2 separate regions of the Homo sapiens genome follow, and region 2 is linked to region 1. The links come from fine-mapping of genetic effects on gene expression. Tissue or cell type: monocytes. Region 1 holds a variant in brackets; the other region holds the start of a gene. All regions are shown on one strand. Distances are between the middles of the regions.

Region 1 (2,680 bases):
ATGGTCTTGGCTTCTGGTGAGGGCTTTCACACTGTGTCATAACATGACAGAGAAAGTCAAAGGGATGCAAGCATGTGTGAAGGGACAAAACCCAAGAGCATCCTAGCTCCCACCTTTGTGGGAACTAATTTATTCCTATGAGAATGAATCTAGTCCCACCAGAGTGAGAACTCAGTACCTGAAGAATGTCACCAAGCCATTCATGAAAGATCCACCCTCATGACACAAACATCTCCCAATAGGTCCCACCTCCTACCACCACCAGATTGGGGATCCAATTTCAACATGCATTCTGGTGAGGACAAAGCATAGCCAAACTATAACAGATCCACAGAAAATGTAATGTTGTAACTTGAGATAATTAAAATAAGGAAAAGGAAGTTGTGGTGGCAATACGGTAGCAGAAGTATTTTCTTCAATTAAAGAGAAGAAAACACTCACAGATTGGCTTAGTGTGTTACTAACTGAAAGCTTAGCAAGGTGTCTTAATGTTAAAAAATAGATATGAGCCTCATCTAACACTTGATAAAATAGGGTAATGAAAAGATCACGGCCACTGTTAACCTGAGATAACAACATAGGAGCCCCCAATAACTGGAGAAAAAAAGGAAGAAAAAATGCTGAAATAATAAATGGCAAAAAGCGAAGACAAAAACAAATCTATAAAGATCAGTCCTACAGAGGTCTGTATTTATGCATGTATGGAAGCTGGAGAAACAAATTTGCACCAAAAAGTTCACCTAATTCATCATTCTTGGGCCACATATGTCACCAATGAGATCTACATCCCCAGCCCTTCAAAGGGTTTAGTGATTTCATTCTCAGGAAATCACTAAGAAATGGCAAAGGAAAGAAACAGAGACTGCTTGGAACCACAGTTTTCTGCTTTCAAGGTAGGCACTAATTGAAGGGTAAAATTTAATCTTGAGTCATGAGCAACTCTTTGGAAATGACAGACCAAAAATCATTGTGTTTGATATATCAATATCTGCAAATAGTGACTACAGGTAAAGTTTCATGTAAACAAATCAAAAAGAGGGAACAAGAGACAGTGATTATATACCAGATGAAAACATCTGGTCACATATCCTCATAAATAATTCATTCATTTGTTCAACAATTGTTGAGCGCCTATGAATATGCCAGATAATGTGCTAAGCAATAGAGTGACCAAGATGAGAAATATATTGCCCATCCTCAAGCTCAGAGTCCAAAAGGAGAGATGGACACATAAGCAAGTAATTATAATGTAATGTAGTAACCGAGTGCTGCTTATATATGGGGGTACATAACTCAGCATGAGTGTGTTTGTGGCTGGAAAGGC[G/A]GGTGGTGAGAAATGGTGGAAGAAGGCCTTTAAAGGTTGGTAATGCACTGGAACAGAAGAAAAGAGCACTTGTTACCTGATTCCTGCCTGCTATCTTTTACACTGGAGAATGACCCCTGGCTCATTTTGTGGAGCTGTTAATTATAGGCTCCTGCCTCTTCTACCACCTATCCCTTGGCCACAGTGCTTGGTTCAGGGATGGTCACATGCTAGGCCTATGAGAGCCAACCATGAGATATTTTTTTGGCTTATCCTATTTTTATTCTAGAGCCATCAGCTAGCTGTTAGTAGTCCTCTTTGCCACCTGATAAGAAGACCCTGCCTAAGAATGAAGTCAGCACAGTGAAAAGCAGAGTTGAAAACTAGGAAGAGATAAAGAGCCCTGCTGACATCATTTGATCTCCTGCATTCAGACATACCTGAATCCATGGCTAGATTTTTAATTGAATGAGCCAATAAATTCCTTTCCTTAGTATGGTTTGGGTTGAGTTTCTGTCACCTTTGACTAGATGGCTTCCTTAAATCAACTGCCTATGTCAGAGAATTATGAGCAACTTCAATGTCCACCAATGAGTCTTTTTTTCTTTTTCTTCTTTTTTTTTTTTTTTTTGAGACAGAGTTTTGCTCTGTTGCCCAGGCTGCAGTGCAGTGATACAATCTTGGCTCATTGCAACCTCTGCCTTCTGGGTTCAAGGAAGTCTCCTGCGTCAGCCTCCTAAGTAACTGGGATTACAGGCGCGCACCACAATGCCCAGCTAATTTTTTGTATTTTTAGTAGAGACGGGATTTCACTATGTTGGCCAAGCTAGTCTCAAACTCCAGACCTCAAGTTATCCACCTGCCTCGGCCTCCCAAAGTACTGGGATTACAGGTGTGAGCCACCGCGCCTAGCCCACCAGTGAGTCTTTTAAGGTTCAACTAAACATTTCAGACTCATAAAGTTATCACAGGCAACATCTGGCACCAGTCTTCTCAGAAGATGTGGGCACAAATTACAGCTTGTCAGTATCTATCAGCTGTTTTCTCTTCATGACACGGTCCACATAGCTGTCCAGGAGGTATTGTCTTTGGACCCCCAGATGAGCGCTTAGTTGCAAAGTGACAAGATCCACATTGGATGGGTCGGAGCCATCCTGGCTTAGAAGGCTCATGCCCCACAAGAATAAATATCTCCTGAATAACTCCTTAGGCACAGCTTTCAGGGTCCCCATGAGAGAGATGCCTAGTTCCAAGAGTCACTGCACTCAGAGAAGCCCAAAAGATGGTTTCCCCTTCTGGAATTTATAATTCATCTGTAGTTCTTCCCAGTCTAGATGGAATTTACCAATTAGAGGTAATTTTATCACAATCTATGCT
Region 2 (2,680 bases), 990 kb after region 1:
CTCAAGCCGAGACTCTGCATTAAAAAATATATATATTGAAAGGTTCGTGGTGAGGCTGCCGAGTTAATGCTAACAAAGGACTTCAGAGGGCACTGTCTTTCTTTGTTTGCAAGGAGCGAAATTTCTCGGCGCAAATACCAGGAAGGAACAAGGATAAAGGAAAATGAAATTAGAATGAAGAACTGACAGTCTTGGTTTCAGCAGTCTGGACTCTGGAAGCGCCATGTGGGGCCTCCTTAGCCAGTTTAAATCGCTCCTGCGCCTAGTGTTTTAAAGCAAGCTGGGAGGCGAAGCGCGGGCGCTTGGGGACGCGGGGACCCGGGGACGGAATAAACTCTGTCGTGGGGCCCTCACTCTCGAGCTGCAGAGCTGGGACATTGTTGCTAAGTGACTACGAGCCAGGCAATTCACATCTCCCTGGGCCTCGGTTCCCCACCTGTAAAACAAGGGGGCTGGACCGGTCATCTATCCCGTTCATTTATAGACTTAGCTCCAAATACCGAATAAAAGACAGATATTTTAACTCCCAGTGGAAAGACAAGCCTCTAGTTGCAAAGATAAATGGGATTCGTAAAAGTGATCACCACGCGAGATTATTTTTCGAATCGCCTTCCCTTCTCCTGACACGCGGGACTATTAAACGTGTGTGTGTGCTGGGCCATTTCTTTACTGAACTCCAAACTAACACCACCGAGCGATAAAAAACAGGAGAAGGTGATGGAGGCTTAATCGCTAGGAGAGGAGGCGGCGTGGCTGCTGCTTTGAGGAGTTCACTTTGAATCAAGCGGCCGCGGCGATTGGCTGAAAAGCACGTGGTGCGCGCCCCGCAGGACTGCGCCCCGGCTGCCCCTGCAGTCGCCTGGCTTAGGGCAGAGTCCAGCCGGGGGTGCCGCACCCACTGGGGAGTGGGGAGGGAGGACACATAGGAAATGCCTGGGGCTGGAGTCTCTTTGGCTCTCTGCCAGCAAGAAACTTAAACGTCCTGGCTTGCTCAACCCGAGTGTCCCTAAACTGTCCAGACTTTTGCCCGTCCATTGCCACTATCTCTCCCCACTCTGGGTGTCCTACCCAAGGCGCTGTCTATGCGTGCCCAGGGCCTGTCCTGCGGATACCCAGCTCGCCCCTTGCAGCCCTTTTTAGAGCATCTCGCGGGCTCTGGCATCACCAAGCGCACAGCCCCGGGCTGCGCTCCCCTAAGGTGGGTCCCTCAGATCCGGGGCTGTCCATTAACCAGGCTGGCCCAAAGAGGCGCAGACACTCGAACCCGGGAAAACTTATTTTATTCTCGGTTCCCGGGGTTGCAGCTGCCAGCGGCTGAGACAGTGCGTCCGCTTTGTCTCTCTGCACTCCCCGCAGCCCCCCTCTCCCGCTTCCTCTCCCGATTAACTCCCCCGACACGCTCTTCTCTAGCTCCTCTCCTCCTCCCACTCCTTCTCCTCCTCTTCCTCCTCCTACACCACAGGCCGCGCTAATGCGCTTCCTCCCTCCCCCGGTGTCGGTCTCTTTGCATACGCGCCCCCTCCCCTCCCCGCCGCGCCACTTATAGCGGGGCGCACGGCGGCGGGGCGCAGACTGCTCTGGCAGCCGGAGAGGAGGCGGTGCGGCGGTGGCGCTGCGGAGACCCGGTCCAGACGCCTGGCGGCCGCCGGCACACAAGGCGCTTTCTAGCTCCCTCCCCCGAGCGCACAGCCCGCCTCCTTCCGCGGCGCCTGCAGTGGCAGGCTTGCTCTGCCCTACCGTGACGCGCTCCGGAGACGCTCTGCGGGTCCTGGACACCGGGTCCGCGGCGTGGGGACGACAGACGGAGGCGAACGCCATCGGTAGCCGGTCCGCGAGCCATCGTTCGGGGCGCAGTCCTCTCCCCGGCTGGCCCTCCTTTCTCCGGGGCATTCGCCACCGCTTCCCTGGGCTGAGACGACCGGTTCGTCGCCTCCTTGCCCGTGACCGTCGCTAGAACTCAGTTGTGCGTTGCGGCCAGTCGCCACTGCTGTAAGTTTCCCCCACTGCCCCGGACCTGTTGCAGGCGCTGCGGGCTTCAGGGGCTGCTTCGGCTGCAGGGGTGTGTTCGCGAGGGGTGAGCGTGCTCCGAGCACTCGGGAGCTTCGACTAGAGGGCAAGGGGAGCTCTTCTCGGTGCGGAGATCACGGTGCCCGCCGCTGCCCTCCCACAGCAGGCAGAAGCCGGGCATCGCCGGAGAGGTCGACCGGCCTCCCCTCCGCGGTGCAATGTCTGGGGCGAGCCGCTGGGGAAGCGAGGAGCCGAGCTAAGGATACAGTCAGCCTCTCTCCTCTGCGGAAAGCAGCGCTTTCCTGGGGGTGAATGTCGCGCTGCGTCGCTCCCCGCAGCCTCCAGGGCCGAGCGCGCGGGATGGTTGGCCCACGTTGCATCCTCCCCGGCTTGGAGGAAAGTTGGGGCCATGCACAGACACCCTGAGTGCGGGCATGTTCACTGCGGCGGAAATGTCTATAGAGAATGAATGAAAACTGCTTTCTGAAAAACTAGTTTCTTGATCTGTCGTGTTAACATTATTAGTTACAAAGGATAGGAATTGGTGGGCCTGGAGATGAAACACTGAATTTATCCACATGCGGTTTGGTGTCACACAGGCATGGCCAGCTTGTTAAATAGCGTTGCAAGTGTTAATAAAAAGACTCTGGCAAGAAGCTACTTTTGTTAACAA

What was found. PIP is the estimated chance that this variant, and not a neighbour inherited with it, causes the effect.
Region 2: ENC1 starts here. The variant in region 1 is fine-mapped to the expression of ENC1 in monocytes (BLUEPRINT, PIP 0.90).

Annotation. Positions count from the first base shown.
Region 1 is chr5:75,631,361-75,634,040 of GRCh38, reverse strand. The region is part of intron 5 of ANKDD1B (ankyrin repeat and death domain containing 1B); the gene reads right to left. Among named protein-coding and RNA genes, the nearest start is that of ANKDD1B, 21 kb to the right of the region's middle. The variant G/A (reference allele first, on the strand shown) is at 1,325.
Region 2 is chr5:74,639,616-74,642,295 of GRCh38, reverse strand. It overlaps ENC1 (ectodermal-neural cortex 1), which reads left to right and starts at 1,568. Exons shown (of 3, transcript NM_003633.4): 1 at 1,568-1,989. It also overlaps a transcript of HEXB not described here. RefSeq lists enhancers at 1-582, 583-1,298, 1,760-2,119 and a silencer at 1,460-1,719.